Linked DNA regions of Homo sapiens. The protein of the gene in region 1 purifies or fractionates together with the protein of each later gene. This does not show direct contact. Each region holds a gene or a part of one and is shown in the gene's direction. Other genes may lie near its edges.

What was found.
Region 2: the proteins of BFAR (region 1) and CASP10 purify together in Homo sapiens (affinity purification with western blotting, with the first as the bait; one study listed by BioGRID). This does not show direct contact.
Region 3: the proteins of BFAR (region 1) and ALDH9A1 purify together in Homo sapiens (affinity purification with mass spectrometry, with the first as the bait; one large-scale study listed by BioGRID). This does not show direct contact.
Region 4: the proteins of BFAR (region 1) and PHYKPL purify together in Homo sapiens (affinity purification with mass spectrometry; one large-scale study listed by BioGRID and IntAct). This does not show direct contact.
Region 5: the proteins of BFAR (region 1) and SERGEF purify together in Homo sapiens (affinity purification with mass spectrometry; one large-scale study listed by BioGRID and IntAct). This does not show direct contact.

The regions. Positions count from the first base shown.
Region 1 is NC_000016.10:14,646,413-14,650,203, forward strand, and holds part of BFAR (bifunctional apoptosis regulator), read left to right. Parts: intron 1-1,975; coding exon 1,976-2,180; intron 2,181-3,391; coding exon 3,392-3,561; intron 3,562-3,791. UniProt on the Homo sapiens protein: Membrane-bound E3 ubiquitin ligase that plays a role in several processes including apoptosis regulation or reticulum endoplasmic stress. Has anti-apoptotic activity, both for apoptosis triggered via death-receptors and via mitochondrial factors.
Region 2 is NC_000002.12:201,199,874-201,203,664, forward strand, and holds part of CASP10 (caspase-10 isoform 1 preproprotein), read left to right. Parts: intron 1-569; coding exon of another isoform or gene 570-629; exon of another isoform or gene 630-856; intron 857-3,791. UniProt on the Homo sapiens protein: Involved in the activation cascade of caspases responsible for apoptosis execution. Recruited to both Fas- and TNFR-1 receptors in a FADD dependent manner. May participate in the granzyme B apoptotic pathways.
Region 3 is NC_000001.11:165,674,327-165,678,117, reverse strand, and holds part of ALDH9A1 (4-trimethylaminobutyraldehyde dehydrogenase isoform 1 precursor), read left to right. Parts: intron 1-3,791. UniProt on the Homo sapiens protein: Converts gamma-trimethylaminobutyraldehyde into gamma-butyrobetaine with high efficiency (in vitro). Can catalyze the irreversible oxidation of a broad range of aldehydes to the corresponding acids in an NAD-dependent reaction, but with low efficiency.
Region 4 is NC_000005.10:178,212,184-178,215,974, reverse strand, and holds part of PHYKPL (5-phosphohydroxy-L-lysine phospho-lyase), read left to right. Parts: intron 1-544; coding exon 545-699; intron 700-1,089; coding exon 1,090-1,179; intron 1,180-1,959; coding exon of another isoform or gene 1,960-2,110; exon of another isoform or gene 2,111-2,865; intron 2,866-2,871; coding exon 2,872-3,002; intron 3,003-3,791.
Region 5 is NC_000011.10:18,010,154-18,014,441, reverse strand, and holds the start of SERGEF (secretion-regulating guanine nucleotide exchange factor), read left to right. Parts: upstream 1-1,394; 5' UTR 1,395-1,431; coding exon 1,432-1,491; intron 1,492-4,288. UniProt on the Homo sapiens protein: Probable guanine nucleotide exchange factor (GEF), which may be involved in the secretion process.

The DNA.
Region 1 (3,791 bases):
CCTGACCTTTAGTGATCCGCCCGTCTTGGCCTCCCAAAGTGCTGGGATTACAGGCGTGAGCCACTGTGCCTGGCCAAATGCCCAGCTAAAATTTTTTTTTTTTAAGATGGAGCTTCACCCTTGTTGCCCGGGCTGGAGTGCATTGGCAAAATCTCGGCTCACTGCAACCTCCGCCTCCCAGGTTCAAGTGATTCTCCTGCCTCAGCCTCCCAAGTAGCTGGGATTACAGGCATGTGCCACCATGCCTGGCTAATTTTGTATTTTTCGTAGAGACAGAGTTTCTCCATGTTGGTCAGGCTGGTCTCATACTCCCGACCTCAGGTGATCCGCCCGCCTCAGCCTCCCAAAGTGCTGGGATTACAGGCATGAGCCCCCGCGCCCAGCCTCTTTTTAAAATATTGGAAAATTACTGATAAAACTAAAGATCCTTTTGACCCCTTATTTTCCCATCTTAGAATCCTTTCCTTTTTCCTTAGAATAATTTCAGTTATGACTTAGTTGTGCTTTTGTTCAGATTTTTTTAAATACTTTTTTTTAACTTTTTAGTAGCGATCAGGTCTCACTATGTTGCCCAGGCTGGTCTCCAACTGCTGAGCTCAAGTGAACCTCCTGCCTCAGCATCCCACAGTGCTGAGATTACAGGCGTGAGCCACTACACCCAGCCTCAGATTTTTCAAAATACTCTTTTTTGAGACAGAGTCTCGCTCTGTTGCCCAGGCTGGAGTGCAATGGTGCGATCTCAGCTCACTGCAACCTCCTCCTCCCAGGTTCAAGCGATTCTCCTGCCTCAGCCTCCCAAGTAGCTGGGATTACAGGCGCCCACCACCACACCCGGTTGATTTTTGTATTTTTAGTAGAAACAGGGTTTTACCATGTTGGCCAGGCTGGTCTGGAACTCCTGACCTTAAGTGATCTGCCCACCTCGGCCTCCCAAAGTGCTGGGATTACAGGCGTGAGCCACCACGCCCGGCTTAAAAATACTTCTAAACATACATGTGCCAGGCTGGGTGCGGTGGCTCATGCCTGTAATCCCAGTACCTTGGGAGGACCGAGGCAGGCGGATCTCATGAGGCCAGGAATTCAAGACCAGCCTAGCCAACATGACCAAAAATACAAAAATTAGCCTGGTGTAATGGCGCATGCCCATAATCCCAGCTACTCAGGAGGCTGAGACATGAGAATCACTTGAAGGACACGGAGGTTGCGGTAAGCTGAGATCATGACATTACACTCCAGCCTGGGTGACAGAGCAAGACTCTTGTCTCAAAAAAAAAAAAAAACAAGTGCCAATAGAAAATGCAAGTATTTTCTCACATCATTGATGTGCTCTCTGCATGGTTCTGCAGTTTACTATTTTAAATCAATTATGTACGTCTTAAATTTCTCCACCTTGACACATTTAGTGATCCAGCAAATGCATTTAAAATTGTGATACTTCATTGTATGAATATACCATATTTCATTTAGCCTTTTACCTAGTAGTAAATGTATATCATCAGGTTGGTGCACAAGTAATTGCAGTTTTTACCATTGAAAGTAATGGTAGGCTGGGTGCAGTGGCTCATGCCTCTAATCTTAGCACTTTGGGAGGCCCCGGTGGGCAGATTGCCTGAGCTCAGGAGTTCAATACCAGCCTGGGCAACATAGTGAAACCCTATCTCTACTAAAAATACAAAAAAAAAGTTATCCGGGTATGGTGGTGTGCACCGGTGAGCCAAGATCACGCCATTGCACTCCAGCCTGGGCGACAGAGTAAGACTCCGTCTCAAAAAAACAAAAGGAGAAAGTAATGGTAAACAACCTAATAGATTATTTCAGATTTTTTGCTTTTACCCACAGGACTATAATACATTTCTTGTCAGTTCTCCTAGGGTAGCTATATATTATTAGATGTTGACTATCAGGGCTTTTTTGGCCTCTAAACATGATATTTAGTCAAACAACTGTCTTAATTTTTTTTTTCTATTCTCCATAGGGATGCCATTGAAAAGTTATTTCCTGATGCCATTAGACTGAGATTTGAAGACATTCAGCAGAATAATGACATAGTCCAAAGTCTTGCAGCCTTTCAGAAATATGGGAATGATCAGATTCCTTTAGCTCCTAACACAGGCCGAGCGAATCAGCAGATGGGAGGGGGATTCTTTTCCGGTGTGCTCACAGCTTTAACTGGAGTGGCAGTAAGTTGATCACTGTGTTCCTCTGTGCCCCCCCACACCTCACCCCCCGACCCCTGATTTCCACTGAAGTCAGTTCTGTTGAAATCACTGAAATAATTGATGATGTGACTCCATGTAATTTACTACGTACATTGAAATCTGCTGGGTTCTATGATTTCCTCAGGAATGTTGCTTACTCAGGTAGATCAGATCATAGTACCTAGTAAATGGAGAAAGGTGGTAGAACTGGAATTCAAGACCATGTCTGCCTTGGTAATACAATCTTTTTTTGTTTTGTTTTGTTTTTGAGACGGACTCTTGCTCTGTCGCCCAGGCTGGAGTGCAGTGGTGCGATCTAGGTAAAAACTTTCTTTTAGGGTGGTGAAAATGAACTAAAACCAGCTGTGGTGATGATGACACATATTTGTGAACACATTAAAAACCGTGGATTGTGTGCACTTCAAATGTGTGAATTTTATGTGGATTACATCTCTTGCTCTTTTTTTTTTTTTTTTTTTTTTTGAGATGAAGTCTTGCCCTGTTGCCTAGGCTAGAGTGCGGTGGCATGATCTCGGCTCACTGCCACCTCCACCTCCCGAGTTCAAGTGATTCTTCTGCCTCAGCTTCCCAAGTAGCTGGGATTACAGGCATGCGCCACTACAAGAGGCTAATTTTTGTGTGATTAGTAGAGATGGGGTTTCACCATGTTGGCCAGGCTGGTCTGGAACTCCTGACCTCAAGTGATCCACCCGCCTCAGACTCCTCAAGTGCTGGGATTATAGGCGTGAGCCACCACGCCTGGACCTCCTTGGTAATACAGTCTTAAGAACCCACCAGTTTACTAACTTCCAATGTGGAGACTATTTTCTTTTAAAGTTCTGTGCATAAAAAATCTAAATGTTTTTCCAGTAGAAAAGGCACAAGTCAGTTATGTTGAGCAAGTTGATGGAGTCAAGGCACCACCTGCTCCCAGGTGCCTGAGATAAGTCCTTTTCTCGCCTCTGTGCCCTCACTGCCACGCAATCAGCAGAGAGAGGCACCCGAGGAGAGCTGTGGTCCCCAGTTCTCTGTGGCCGTGGCGTTGCCCTGCTTTTGTTGCCCTGCTTCTGTGTACGGGCTCCGCATCATTCCCTGTGAGCTCAGCCTCTTCCTTTCCCCACCTCCCACCCGCATATTTAGAAACTGGCATCTCTGCCTCTCCATGGTTTAAAGTCCCTGTCACTTTTCCCCAGGTGGTCCTGCTCGTCTATCACTGGAGCAGCAGGGAATCTGAACACGACCTCCTGGTCCACAAGGCTGTGGCCAAATGGACGGCGGAAGAAGTTGTCCTCTGGCTGGAGCAGCTGGGCCCTTGGGCATCTCTTTACAGGGAAAGGTTTTTATCTGAACGAGTAAATGGAAGGTGAGGAGCAAAGTCTTCTGACACACCGTGGACATTTTAGAAAACAGCTTTCTTGAGATATAATCCAGGCCAGGCGCGGTGGCTCACACCTGGATCCCAGCACTTTGGGAGGCCGAGGCGGATCGATCATTTGAGGTCAGGAGTTCCAGACCAGCCTGACCAATATGATGAAACCCCATCTCTACTAAAAATACAAAAAAAAAAAATTGGCCAGGCTTGGTAGTGCACAC
Region 2 (3,791 bases), on another chromosome or scaffold:
TAGTCTCCTTTAATCTTGAACATTTCCACAACTTTTATGACATTTAATTTCCTCTTTTATGCCATTGAGACTTTTGAAGAATGCAGTCACTCCTCCCACCTTTCATTAAATAGAATTTTCCTTATCTTTGGTACATGTGGTATTTCCTCATAATTAGATTCAAGCTGTACGTTCTGGCCAGAATATCACAGAAGTGATGTGTCTTTCTCAGGGCATCCCATCTGGAAATACGTCATGTCCATCTGCCCCCCTATTCGTGATGCTAATTTTGATTATTTGGTCAAGATATTTTCTGATATTATCACTCTGCAGTTAATTTTATATAGTTACTATTTTTTCCCCACGCAATTAATAAGCAAGTGCTGGAGAGACATTTTAAGATTCTGTAAATATCCTGCTGCACATGAAAAGTTTCCCCCTAGATTGAGCGTCTGCTGATGATTCTTGTGTGATCCAGCATTTACTATGTTGGTTGTAAAACAATGCTTTTCTGACTCCAGTATTCTCTCCACATTCGTAAGTTGGCTCTCAGCATTCTACTGTAAAGAAGGACCCTCCTTTCTCCCCAGGAAGGTGTTTTTGTTTTTTTAAATGAAGGAGACCGTGGAAACTCGCCAGATGACCTGTAGCTCCTGGAGCTTGGCAAAGGCTGGGCAAACGCCCACCTGAAGACTATGCAGGCAATCAGGACATGACACAGAGCCGGGAGAGGCCTGCTCTTCGGCTCTGCCCTGAACCTCATTCGGCAGGTGGAGGTATTTAGGCATTTGAGGGAATCTCAGCTTTGGGAGGCCACTTTGTAAGTGATCTTAAGAGATTAAGTACATCCTTAATTAAAAGAAATGGTAACACCTCCGCCTGCTTGCTGTGAGTTTATTCATTTGAATTCCCCATCTCCCCCAATGGGAAATAACACAGAATTGCAATTATTTATAAAATCTTAAATTGGCTTCTTTTCTCTAGGAAAATAGCCCTTGATTCAATTAATTCCAATCCTAGAAAAGCGCCTAGATATCTGATTGAGGTATTGAGGGAGAGAGGCTGCTCCCCTTGATTCTTTTACTATAATCCAATTAAAGCAACATTTATGGGCCAACTCCCTGGCCATGGGCACAGCTTTGTTTAGAGAGTTGCAAATCCATTCCCACCTCCCCGCTCCCCCAGAAGCTCTTTATTATTTTATTTTATTTATTTATTTTTTTGAGATGGAGTCTCGCTCTGTCACCCAGGCTGGAGTGCAATCTCAGCTCAATGCAACCTCAGCCTCCCGGGTTCAAATGATTCTCATGCCTCAGCTTCCCTAGTAGCTGGGATTACAGGCACCCGCCACCATGCCTGGCTAATTTTTTTTGTATTTTTAGTAGATACAGGATTTCACCATGTTGACTTAAGGTGATCCACCCTCCTGAGTCTCCCAAAGTGCTGGGATTACAGGCATGAGCTATTGTGCATGGCCATCCCAGAAGCTCTTTAAAATGTGGTTTTCCAGCACTGACATTTTAGGATTCCCTAATTCTAAGTTAAATTGTCTGCTAAATGTAACTCTTCCCACCCACTTTTTCAACTTGTTTTGTGCTCAGATACTGACATGCATGTAGAAACACACACACACACACACACACGATTCTGCTCGTTGTCTTTGAGAAATTCAGTGGTTTCTAAAGGGGCATGGCTCAGCTGTGGCCTCTGAAGCGCTGTGGTTCCGCTGACGTGGGATGATAACTTGGCCACGGCACATGCAGTAGGGGGATAGTCGTGGCAGTACTAGAAGTGCAAAGGGGACTGGGGCACAGCATCTCACGTGTTTTCACAGACTTTTAAGGTTGGAAGGTGTCTTAAAAGTTATCTGGGCAGCCCTTTCCCTCTCCATCAAATGATGAATAAAATAAAACTTGGTGAAACATCTCATGTTTCTTAAGCACCTGAGGATTTTTTTTTTAAATTTAAAAGAACACTGCCAATAATTGGGCTCAATGAGAAGGAACTCTCATCGAATTTTAAGCAACATCTCCTAATATGTTTAAAAATTAAATTTATTTTTTTCTCAGCCCCCTGCAACTTCAGCCTCCCAGGTTCAAGTGATTTTCCTGCCTCAGCCTCCTGAGTAGCTGGGATTACAGGCACGTGCCACCGCACCCAGCAAATTTTTTGTATTTTTAGTAGAGATGGGGTTTCGCCATGTTGGCCAGGCTGGTCTCGAACTCCTGACCTCAGGTGATCCACCTGCTTCAGCTCCCAAAGTGCTGGGATTACAGGCGTGAGCCACCGTACCCGGCCAAATCGATTTTTTTGAGTGTGGCATAAGGTTTTCTTAAGGAGAGGCATGTCTCTCTATGGAGGAGACCTAACACCTGCTTCTTTATAAGGCCTTATTGGACCCCTCTTGAAAACTATCAAAAGAAGTTGAAAGATGATTCAGTGTGGCCAGGCTGTGGGACATTCACTCATTCATTCATTCATTCCTCTCTGACATAGAGACTTGAGAGGTGTCAACAGAGGATGCAACATTCTCGGGAGAAGAAAGGCAGATTAGACCTTAAAGCTTTTTTCTAGTCCCTGTTCTGGCTGACTTTATCAGCCAAGGGAAGAACAAATCAAGGAAAGCCAGGGCCTGGAGGGGCTGGGCAGAGCCTGCTGCTGTGTCTGCATTGCCCCTAATCCCAGAAGACTCACTCAACTGCTGGACAAAACCAGAAGGCAGTCTGGCCAGGCCCTTGTCTGCCTCTTAGAAGAAATCTAGGATTCTACAGGAAGGGAACAGTGGCTTATGAAAAGAAAGGCAGGAAGCCTTTTGGAAAGTGAAGCTAAGCCTCCTTTGCATTTGTTCCTGCAGAGCTGGGGGAACAGCTCTTCCCCAACACCTTGGTCAGGTCCCCTTGGGGGCTTTCTGCTGAAGGCTGACGGCTGAGAGTCATAGGGGGAAGGGGGTGATGGTGAATGGGGAGGAGGGTACAGAAAAGACAGGGTCTTAGACTTTGTTTTAATTTTGTATTTAATTATATAAAACATTAATGTATGCCCAAGGTAGTGCATCCTTGCCTCTCCTCCCCACCTCGATTGCCATTTTTATTTGTTTTTTGATTTATCTTATTACTTTTGAAAAAAATCCAACGTATATCTTCCCTTTATTACAAAAGAGGTAGTGCACTCAAATACCATTTCATTTTGCTTTCTCCATATGACAGCATCCCCTGGAGAAGGGTATAGAGGCTGTCCTTGGCATCTTACTCCACTATGTGGACATACCACAGCTTTTTCAATCACTTCCTATTGGTGGACATTAGGCTATTTCCAGTCCTTAGTGTAAATAATGCTGCAATGAGTAAGTACCCTTGAGCATATGTCACACTGTATTTTTGCCAGTGCGTCTTTGTGAACCTTCTCCTTTGGATGGAGAGAGTTGGTTCTCTTCCCATTTCCTGCCAATGAACTTTCTTTTTTTTTTTTTTTTGAGACAGAGTCTTGCTCTGTCACCCAGGCTGGAGTGCAGTTGCGCAATCTCGGCCCACTGCAACCTCTGCCTCCCAGGTTCAAGTGATTCTCCTGCCTCAGCCTCCTGAGTAGCTGGGATTACTGGCATGCGCTACCACACCCGGCTAATTTTTTTATTTTTAGTAGAGGTGGGGTTTCACCATGTTAGTCAGGCTGGTCTCGAACTCCTGACCTCAGGTGATCCACCTGCCTTGGCCTCCCAAAGTGCTGGGATTACAGGCATGAGCCACCGCAACCGGCCCAATGACCTTTTCTGTGGCTGTGGATTAGATATCTGTCCTTCCCTGCATCAAGTCTAG
Region 3 (3,791 bases), on another chromosome or scaffold:
ACAATCCACCCACGTTGGCCTCCCAAAGTGCTGGGATTACAAGTGTGAGCCACTGTACCCGGCCTTTATTTTATTTTTTTATTGAGACGGAGTCTCACTCTGTCACCCAGGCTGGAGTGCAGTGGCACGATCTCAGCTCACTGCAACCTCCACCACCTGGGTTCGGGTTCAAGTGATTCTCCTGTTTCAGCCTCCCAAATAGCTGGGACTACAGGTGTGTGCCACCACGGCTGGCTAATTTTTTTTTTTTTTTTTTTTTTGAGACAGAGTCTTGCTCTGTCGCCCAGGCTGGAGTACAGTGGTGCGATCTCGGCTCACTGCAAGCTCTGTCTCCTGGGTTCATGCCATTCTTCTGCCTCAGCCTCCCAAGTAGCTGAGACTACAGGCACCCGCCACCACGCCTGGCTAATTTTTTGTGTTTTTAGTAGAGATGAGGTTTTACCATGTTAGCCAGGATGGTCTGGATCTCCTGACCTCATGATACACCTGCCTTGGCCTCCCAAAGTGCTGGGATTACAGGCATGAGCCATTGTACCCAGCCTCATTATTTATTTTGATGCTAAAATAATTGCAGATGGCTGGTGGGAATCCCTTTCCGTGACCTTTTGATATGCCCTCATTATTCTTTGAATACTTCATTACTTTCTGGCATAGCAAAGTGTTCCAGACTCATACTTCCCCTGGCTGTGCTCTGGAACCAGCCATTTCTCTGAAGGAGGCCTGGTTCCATTATTGTTTATCTGTTTATTATTAATTTTTGAGACAGGGTCCTGCTCTGTTGCCCAGGCCGGAGTGCAGTGGTGCTTTCTTGGCTCACTGCAATCTCGGCCCCTCCAAGGTCAAACAATCCTCCCACCTCAGTCTCCAGTGTAGCACACCACCACATTCAGCTAATTTTTGTATTTTTTGTAGAGACGGGGTTTCACTGTGTTGGCCAGGCTGGTCTTGAACTCCTGGGCTCAAGTGATCCAAATGCCTCGGCCTCCCAAAGTGCTGGGATTGCAGGCATGTGCCACCGTGCCCGGCCTGTTTTTTATTTTTTGTAAACTTTTTTTTATGATTTAGAAGGACTATCTTCAAACCAGTACAAGTATTTCATAAATAATATCTGATTGTTTTCTAACCAGTTGAGTAATTTGTTGCACGATAAGCCACCTCACATCTTTCAGCAAGAAAAATACTAAGTCTGAACAGTAAAGACATTACACAATGAGTTAGGACACAATTAAAATCTGCTTTAAATATTTTTTTGGGGGAGAGGACACCACACTTCTCTACTAAATAAAGAGAAACAATTTTGCAGTCCAGAGGTCTTTTATTTTTTTATACCTATCATGCCATGAATTCATAGGGAATAGGTTCCAGCAGCTCAGGCTCCTTCCCGTTGGTTCTCACACAGTGGGATTCCCTGGGTGGAGTAGGCTGGTGCTTCAGCTGAAACCAGGTACCTTTCTCTTTGGCTTCCTTCTTTTTCTGATCATCTTCTTTCATGCATTTCAGAAGCTATCTTGGGTCTTAGAGCGCTTAATGTGCTCAATGTGCACGTTAATTCTCTTGGCAAGAATTTTGCCCTTAATTTGTTTACAGCAGTGCCAACAACATGCTGGGTAACATTGTAGACTCTTCCAGTTTTTCCCAGGTAATGCTTTTGGGCATTCCTTTTTGAATAGTACCCGTTCGCTTGATGTCTACAGTATTGCCTTTCTTATAGATTTGCATGCACGTGGCCCAAGGAACAACTCCATGTTTTCTAAAAGGCCTAGAGAACATATATTGGGTAATTCTTCTCTTTCCCTGTGTTTGTCGTTTTGGTGAATTACTGGAAGACGGCAGTACCAACCAAAAGCCCTGGTTCCATTTAGTGGTAAATGGTATTTAGAAACCAAGATCTGAGTGCCAGGTGTGCTTGTTGCTACTGGTGTATCATTGCTTCTAGGCCCTCTCAGAGGCCAGTGCTGGGAAATACATGTTTGTATATATGTCTGTGCACATATCTAGTTCTGTATCTGTCTGTCTACATAATAATAAGTTCATCCAGATACTTTAATTATAGTCTAATACCACAGGGTTCATTTCTGCCTTCTCCCTTTCCATATTTGTATTTGTTCTCTGACAGTAAGAAATTTGACTCCCATTATCCACAATGTTTATCTAATTGCTCATCATAGAATACACTTAGTATTCTAATAATAGTAGTTTCAGATTTGTAAATCCATACCTCTGTGGAAAATAAACCTTCTAATTAGAGCTCAGAATTTTTTTACAGTTGTTTTTATATTCAGCGTGAGAGTATAGTCAGAATACTGTGTTCAAAAGTTACTTGGGTCAGTTCTACCTTTCCTTCACCCTCCTTCAGTGTGGTTATGATACTCATTTAAAATAACAGATTCATTTGTTTGTGTTTGTATTCATTTGGGTTTTATTTCCCCCATCCTTGCTGATTTTAAAATTTTATTTTGATTAGGCAAAACACAAACATGGTTCTAAACATCAGAATTTTACAAAAACAGATACTCAGAAGTGTTACTGCTCCCCATCCTGTGTACTCTGTTTCCAGTGCCTCCTTCCCACCCAGTTTTGTCCATCTCCTGTGGGTAGCCAGTCTGATTTGTTTCTGGTTTTTGCTTCCTGTGTTTCTTTTTCCACAAATGAATAGGTACTTGTATATTTCTTATTCTTCTTTCATACACAAAAGGTAGCACATTAGAGGTACTCTTTTGTACTTTGCTTTCTTTGCTATGTGTGTGTGTGGATGAATATACACACACAAAGAATACATATAGTATAGAATATATAGAATAAATATATAGAATATTCTACATAATCTGTACTATGTATACTTTATATATATATAGAGAGAGAGAGAGAGCACTAAAAATAATTGTGACGTAATGTGAATTTATTTTATTATTATTATTTTTTCGAGATGGAGTCTCACTCTGTAGCCCAAGTTGGAGTGCAGTGACACGATCTTGGTTCACTGCAACCTTCGCCCCTGGAGCTCAAGCGATTCTCCTGCCTCACCCTCCCAAGTAGCTGGGACTAGAGGCATGCGCTACCACACCCAGTTAATTTTTTTGTATTTTTAGTAGAGACAGGGTTTCACCATGTTGGCCAGGCTGGTCTTGAACTCCTGAGCTCAGGCGATCCACCCGCCTCAGCCTTCCAAAGTGTGGGATTATAGGCGTGAGCCACCACGCCTGGCATGAGCCACCATGCCCAGTGTGATTTTAAATATGTATCACAATTTATCCGTTCATCTGGCAATGGGGTTATTTCCTTATCTTGGTTATTGTGAATAATGCTGCACTGAGCATGGGAGTGCAGATATGTCTTTAAGCTACTGATTTCATTTCCTTTGGTATATACCCAGAAGAGGAATTGCTGAATCATAGGATGGTTCTATTTTTAATTTTTTTTTTTTTTTTTTTTGATTCGGAGTCTCACTTAGTTGCCCAGGCTGGAGTGCAATGGCACGATCTCAGCTCACTGCAACTTCCGCCTCCTGGGTTCAAGTGATTTTCCTGCCTTAGCCTCCTGAGTAGCTGGGATTACAGGCATGTGCCACCACGCCTGACTAATTTTGTATTTTTAGTAGAGACGGGGTTTCTCCATGTTGGCCAGGCTGGTCTCGAACTCCTGACCTCAGGTGATCTGCCCACCTCGGCCTCCCAAAGTGCTGGGATTGCAGGCATGAGCCGCTGTTCCCTGCCAATTTTTAATTTTTTAAAGAGCCCCTATCCTGTTTTCCTTCATGGCTATACTAACTTACATTCTTTTTTTTTTTTTTT
Region 4 (3,791 bases), on another chromosome or scaffold:
AAAACGTGGTTTGCAGGAGACACCTTGCTCGTGATCCTCTAAAACACAGGTCTCCACTCAGATACCTGCAGGATGAGGACAGGGTGGGCGAGGGAAAGGAGCCAGAGCCCTCCAGGGGTGTGAAGCAGCTTTTCCTGGGTGGGGCTTGGCGTGCTGCGCTCACTCTCCCTGGAGGAGGAAGTGCCTAATCCAGTCCTCTGGGTCTGGGCCCAGGAGATGGGGCCTTAAAGCCTCTCTTGGTAAAGACTAGCCCTGTGGGAACAAACAGGACACCCTCTCCTCTGATTCTGTATCTTCTAGGGGCTCCTACTGTACTTCAGGGATACCTGACCTGAGTTGCAGTCACATTAGCTCCTGGAAAGCCAGGACAGCCCATGTTGAACCCCACTTACTACTGCTGAGGACTGTGCGCCCTAAGGGGTTTGGGGCCTCTGCTCTTGCCACTGGCCTTGGAACACGTGTGGCAGTTCTTCTGCCTCACCCTCACTCTGGGGCATGGCCCACTCTGCCAGGGCATCTGACATGTTCTTTGTCCCTGGCTCAGTTTGGGGGCAGCCCAGTGTCCTGCGCTGTGGGGCTGGCCGTCCTGAATGTCTTGGAGAAGGAGCAGCTCCAGGATCATGCCACCAGTGTAGGCAGCTTCCTGATGCAGCTCCTCGGGCAGCAAAAAATCAAACATCCCATCGTCGGGGATGTCAGGTGAGGCTCTGGGGGCAGCAGTCACCACCCACCTGCCAAGGCCCAGTGTGGTACCATTTTCTTCACCTCCTAACAACCTGGGATGGTGGGGTTATGTCCGCTCTCAAGAGGAACTGAGACACTGAGAGGTGCTATTGCCCAAAACGGCTCTCCTGGGGAGGAGAAAGCTAGGACATGACCTGATCCCTAGCTACCCCTGAGCCTCTCTCCTCTGTCCACACCAAAGATCTCTCCCAGCCCAGTTATTCCCTGAAACTATTCTCACCACCTTCTGAAGGTGCCTCCTGCACTCAGCCCCCTCAGGAGGCACAGGTAGGAGCCCAGAGGCTGAGGCCAGCACCCTGGCCCCTCAGGCCTGGCCTCCTGAGATGTCGTCACCTTCCCTTGCAGGGGTGTTGGGCTCTTCATTGGTGTGGATCTGATCAAAGATGAGGCCACAAGGACACCAGCAACTGAAGAGGCTGCCTACTTGGTATCAAGGTATTTTCTTCTTGAAACAAGTTGCTTCCTGGAGTAGGAGACACCACAGGTACCTCTTTGCAGGGCCAGTGGAAAGGAGCCTCATCTGTACCCCCAGCACTCTGGGCCACAGACTTGATTGAAAGAGGGCTGGGGCTGGCGGGTGGGGGCAGTTGTTGGGGGACAGCTGATCCTATCAGCTGAGGACAGAGATAAGTGGTGTTAGCAGTTCTGTACCCAGTGCCTGACTACAAAGGCTGCAGATGAGACACAGGCTATTCCCAGACCAGAGCAGCACCTCTGCCTAGAATGCCCAAGCTAGCAGGGCACTCAGACCCAGGAACCCCTAATGCCACCTTGGCCTGGAGAAGGGAAACACCTTCTCTATTCATACCAGGGAGCTGTGGCAGCACTAGACTCAGGGTTCCCATGCCGCACGACAGGTGGTTGGGATGGACAAGACTCCTGCTCCTAAGCTGGGTCGGGGGTGTCTCAGAACTCAGACTCCACCGGTCCCAATGCCCTGGTTTGCTTGTCCTTTCACTTGGACCCCAAGTCCTCAGGACTTCTTCTCCTTCTAGTTGAATTGTTATTCCCTTTTATCTCCATTCCCCAGGCCTACCCCTTCCCCCACGCCCACCATGGAAAGCTCTTCTGGTATTTGACGTGTCCTTATTCAAATTGTGAGACACGCGTGGTATTGATGTAAATCTCTGTGCTGTATTTGAACTTGGCCTTTCCTGGTCCCGCCTTCTCTCTGCTGTCAGTCACATCCCCAGCTTACTCCTACCCCCCTCCCAGGAGCCTCAGGGATTCGGAATGGTCAGGTGGCATGGAAGGAAACAGATCCCAAGTTCAGCCCGTGTCTCACAATACCCTGGGGGTGCTTTTCCAGTTCAGTGAGGAAATGGGTAAGTCACCTGCAGTTACCCTGCTAGGTGGCAAGAGCTAGATCTGGCCCCAGGGCCGTCTAACTCCAAAGTCCAAGCCCTGTTCTTTCTGGCGTGGCCATGGTCAGTGCCAGGAAGACTGGGACAGGAAAATGAAACCAGAAGGCACACTCCCCACCCCCAAGAAATAAAAATAACAAGGTTTACAAAAGAAGGGGAACAATGATCAAAGAATATAAACACAATCATGCAGACCCCTCATCTCAGAGATGAGGTTAGACTGTGGACTAAAAGTGATTATTAGCTACAAATGATGTTAAGATAAAGCCATCTTCCTAAGAATAATTGGACATTTTAAACTGGAATTGTAAGATAACCCGGAAGACAGGGCAGGAAGATGCCTGAAGCTGGTGAGGGGCACGTGGAGCTCATTACACCAACTGCAATGTTGGACATTCTCTATATAAGGAAACAATATACATCACGTAAACCACACAGAAAACCAGAGAATGCAGGTGACTCTTGCAGTCTGGCGTTTCCCTGTGGCCATTCATTCTTGGCTTGGACTGTGGCTCCAGGGTTAGGTGAGGCAAGGTGCCTGTTCTGTGGGGCAGCAGGCTCAGGGCCAGGTGCAGTGCACTCCAAGCAGGCTGCTGTGGGCCAGATGCACAGGACTCTGGGAGAGGTGACCAGTAAAATGACCTGGCAGGAACTGGCCCATGGAAGGCTCTGAGGACAGTGTGGCTGGAGCACTGGACATGAGGCCAAGGCCAGGCTGAGGAAGGCCTTGAAGGCCATGTGAAGGGGTGTCCTGTCCTCACAGGCTGAAGGAGAACTACGTTTTGCTGAGCACTGATGGCCCTGGGAGGAACATCCTGAAGTTTAAGCCCCCAATGTGCTTCAGCCTGGACAATGCACGGCAGGTGGTGGCAAAGCTGGATGCCATTCTGACTGGTGAGCTTGAAGCCTGAGCTTGGCCATATCTCTAGAACTCAGCCTGAAGCCAGCAACTAGAGCCTCCTAGCATGGAACAGGGAGGGGACAAGAGTCCAAGAGCAGAGGCACATGTCCTCTGGACAGGGCAGGGAGCAAGAGAGGGTCTTTCATGGCCCAATCTGCTCCTATTCCTGCCTGTACCTAAGAGAGCTTCCTGGGCTGTCAGGAGGTGGAAGGTGAGCCACCACCCAGCCTGCCTGAGCAGGCATCAGATGTATGCAGGACAAAGCAGTACTGGGCCTGAGAAACAGGCCATAAGAACTACAGTGGGAGTTGAGACCCCATTACCGCCAGCCTAGGATGTAGAGATGGCAGGAGTTTCATTCTGTACATGAGACAGGTCACACAAGGCTGCTGGGTGGCTGAAAGATTGGTACCACTGAGGACTGACGGAACTCAAAATGAAAACTCTACCCCACATTCCCCATCACCTAGGATGGTCGTGGTCAACCCAGGGTTCCCCCTAAATCCACTTACAAGGAAATCTCATGGCTGTGTTGCCATTTACAGCTCAGTGAGACCCTAAATAGGCACAGTTGCATCTCACAGTAGAGATCACAACTGCCAGCCAAGCAACCTGTGCCCTCCTACCTCTGGGTGATCACTGCTACCCACAGGTATGCTTAATCCCAGGGCTCTGGAGCTGGGGGAGGCCCATCCCTGCTAGACACAAATTGGAAGTGGTAGGGATATGATGAATAGGAGTGTGTTTGTGGAGAGCAAAGGCTGGCCACAGAACAGGCTTAG
Region 5 (4,288 bases), on another chromosome or scaffold:
CTCTCAACCTTTTTCGTAGACTGAAAGTCATACACTGGTTTCTAGACAGTTGCTTTGCAAGACCTGCTTTGGTGGTCTTGAACCTTACTTTATGATATAGGAGTAACTGGCACTTGTTGCTCAGCCAAAACTGAGCGGTGAAGGATCCCATTTTTACATCCTGTTACACATGCTTCAAAGAAATGGTCAGCACAAAAAAGCCCACTCATAAGACAGTCAGTAAGCATGGTATAGCTCCTGCACATTCAGATCCCTAGAGAATGAAGAGCTGTTTTATCTCTCCAAAGTTTGCTTTTTTCTTGGTATGGTCATCGACGTTCTCCAGATGCCACAGGTTGGAGAGATAAAGGTGAGGGGCTGCCCTCAAGTGGTCTTACAGGCAGAAACTCCTAAAAGTGGATGGAGTGAAAGAACAGGAAAGGACAGTGTAAGAGCTCATTGGAGACACTTCCCAGAAGCCCAGGGGTGAAGGGCAGTGAGTGCTGGAGGCCCGTGTCAGCAGAGGGGCCAAGTGCTACCGAATGTGAATGTGGATGATCATCTTTAATGTGACCCTATGTGTTCTGTATTCCCGGTACGCGGTGCCATATTTTCCTTCAGATAAATTGAACTTAATTAACTCCCATCAGCAACACGACGCTGTCTGAGAAAAGCCATTTTATATGGAAATGTTCGTTGGGTGACGATTATCCAGTATTATTAATAGAATGAGCTCAGGGCCGTGCCCGGAGCGCCGAGGCTGCCCCGGCAGGAGTCGACGCTAACCAGCCTCCCCCATTCAGCGTCGCGAGGCGCGGGTTCCCGCTCCGTGCCAGGTGCAGAGGGCGACACCGGCGACGTGCCACTCCACTCGCCTCCCAAGGCGCCCCCTCAGATGTTTGCGAACGCACACCAAAGCGGGCTCAAGACAATTGCGCCTGAGACGCCGGGCAGGACCCTGCCCTACCCCTCAGGCTCCATTTCCTGTTCCCGCAAATGGTGATGCCATCGCTGCCCTGTCAGCCCCTCTGGGCTGTCGTGGGCCTCCAAGGAGACAAAAACGCGAAGGAGCTTTGTGAACTGTGGCGCGCAGTGCACCTGCATGAAACATGAAATTATGACTAAAAATAAAGAGTACGAGGGGGTAGGAGCGAGAGGCTGAGAGGCCCAGCGAGACAGGAGGCTGCGGGCGGAGACGCTGCGAGCGCCGCCGGGGCGGGCTGACTGGGAGGCGGCTCCGGGGCTGTCGTCCGGCCCCGCCCACCACTGATCCCCAGTGGCCCGAGGGCCCGGCCGCACCCTCTCTCCCGGCCTGCGGGCCGCTTCCCACCACAGACCCCGCCCCGCGCCCTACCCATCACGCGTCCCCGGTCCGGCTCCGGCGCTCACCTACCCCCGGCAGGCGCCGCCCCCGTGCCGTCCCTCCCGGAAGCGCCGGCGGAGCGTCCTCGCATGGAGCGCGAGCCCAGCGCCTCGGAGGCCGCCCCCGCGGCGGCCGCGCTCTTCGCCTGGGTACGTGACTCCGCCCCCGGGCCGGTGCAGGCCCTGAGGGGCGCCGAGATGTGGGAGCTGCTGGCCGCGGCGTGGGCAGTTCAGGGGCTGGGCGGCTGAGGTCCGAGCCGGGCTCTGGGTTGAAGGATCCTGGGCTGGGAGCGGAGGGGGAGCGGAGGAGGAGCGGGCGGGCGGGGAAGGAAGGGTCTTCGCGGTCGACTTAGGGGCCTGCCGGCTGGCGGGGTCAGGGCCGGAGGGGCTGTGGCGCCGCGGGAAGAACCTGCCTCGGGGCAGAGCGTCTGGTTCCGCGAGAGCCCTCCAGCCCGAATAGCGCCTGGAAGACAGCGCGGAGGGCTCGGTGGAGAGGATCGCCCGGTCCCAGAGCTCCGTGGGGCCACCTGTGCCCCCCACACTCCTGATGCCTGGAGGAGGGAGACCCTGTCCCAGCCTGGCGAAAGCATCCTTTAGATGTGAGGCCTGCGGTGTTTGGCCGCGCACAAGGCACAGACCCTGCCTATTTGCTGACACTCTGCTGTGACCGGTTCTTGCATGTGTTGGGGGAGTTGGGCTGCTGTTGGTTTGACGGGAGCATTGGGAGAGACAGGGTCATCTTGATGTGTGTCTGGGAGAGAGGAGGGTTCATGCACAGGAGCGTGGCAGGTGGCCGACCAGCATGCACGGGAACAAGCAGTCGCTGCGTCTTGTGCTTCTTCATAGCACGTATCACAATTGTAATGATGTGTATAATTTATTATTAACGTCAGTCTCTCTGGCTGGAAAGTAAGTGTGGTAAGAGTGGGTGCTGTGCCTGTCTTGTTCACGGTGCCTCTCTTGGTGTCTGGCACATTGTAGGTCCCCAGTAAATACTCGTTGACGAATGAATGAACGAGCATCTGTGTGCCTACCCATGTGCTGGTGTTGGGGAAATACACATGAGTGAAATACACGAGTGAAGGACTTCCAGCTCTTGTGTTGGGGGAGAGCAAAATTATAACCTGTATTGCTGTTAAAATCAGTATTAGTTGTCCAATTTTTAAAGAAGTAATGATCAGTACAAGGCGGCAATTGTTGAATGTGGGGCTGCAATTTGGCAGGAGGGAGAGCATGGCGTGACCTGCGGTAGTCTGGCTGGCTGGGCGTCTTTGAGGTGGCCCGGGAGCTGGGGGTGGAGTTGGGGATTGAATGTGTGCTGTCTCTGGCTTTTTCCAGGCAGGAGACTGGCGTCTGTGTGGACAGAGGAAACAGAAATATTGTTTCAGTACAGACAAAGCCGAATATTAAAGGTTGTAAAATATGTTTAATAGGTTGTTGACACCCTTCTGCTGTGTTTGGAGGACTGGTAGTGTGTTTTTCCTGCTGTATAATCTGAAACTGTGGGGGTGTGTTGGTCGGCTAGGGCTACCATAACAAAATACCACACAACAGAGGCTTAAACAACAGAAATTTATTTTCTCACAGTTCCAGAGGCTAGAAGGCCAAGATCAAGGTGTGAGTAGGTTTGGTTTCTCCCGAGGCCTCTCTCTGGCTTGCAGATGGCCGCCTTCTCACTGTGTCCTCACATGGCTTTTTTCACTGTGTCCTCACATGGCCTTTTCTGTGTGCGTGAGCATCCGTGGTGTCTCTTCTTTTAAGGACACCAGTCATATTGGATTAGGGCCCCACCCTTATGACCTCATTTAACCTTAATTGCCCCTTTAAAGGCCTTCTTTCCAAATACAGTAAGGTACTAAAGGTTAGGGCTTCAACACGTGAATTTTGGGGGAATAAAGTTCGGTTCACAGGAAGGGGATTTACCTTGTTAGGGGTGTGTGTGTGTGTGTGTGTGTGTGTGTGTATGTGTGCATGTGCACGTGTGATATGTCTGGAGTGTTTGTGAGGAAGAAAGGCAAACAACAGTTGTAATAGGTTGTGTTAAATTTCCCTTCGTCTTGCTTTATCCTGGATTTAGGGCCTCTCACAGTGTTACAAAAATTGGTACCGTAATTTGAACCTCAGAGTGCCCATGTGTCATGTTACTTTTCTCCCAGGTGTTCAGCAGCCTTGCACCCCTGGTAATGGGACAGCCACGGAGATCTCAGGGCTGACCAAGAAATCCTGTGCATATATGCTCTATATTCCCCTTCATGCTGAGCAAGTCTTTCATAGGGTCTTACATTCATTCGCCATATAAATATATGTACATCTTCTTTGGGCCAGCACAGTTTCAGATGCAGGGGAAACAGCAGTGAGCAAAGCAGAGTTCCTGCCCTCCTGGAGTTTAGTTTCTGGCAGGGGTGGTGTACAGTAAACAAGTAGTCATATATAATGTAACATCAAGAAGTGGCATGAAGAAAAATAAAGCAGAAAATGAGTGATATGGGGATGCTCTTTTAGATAAAGTCATACAGTTAACCACCTGTCAGGTAAGCTCTGGGCTGCTTCACTGTATGTCCTTTTTTTATTTTTTCTAAGAGACACAGTAAGGTATAGTAAAAGGTGCAGGGCATCAGACTTTTTGCCTACCCAGATATAACTATGGAAAGTTACTTAACCTCTCTGAGCCTTAGTTTCTTCCTCTGTGAAATGGGAGTAATAATGTCCTTCTTAGTTGTTGTGAGGATTAAAGGTGAATGCACAGTATGGAGAGAAGCACTCAGTAATTGGTAGCTAATATTGCCCCCTGTGGGCTTCTGGGACTTATGCCCCTGCTATGGCTTACTCTTCCATCTTTGAGTCCTTGCAGCCCAGGATGGCTGTGAAATAGACTACAAGGGGAAGGATTATGTATGTATGTATGTAAGTATGTATATATGTATTTGTTGTAATTATTTTACATCAC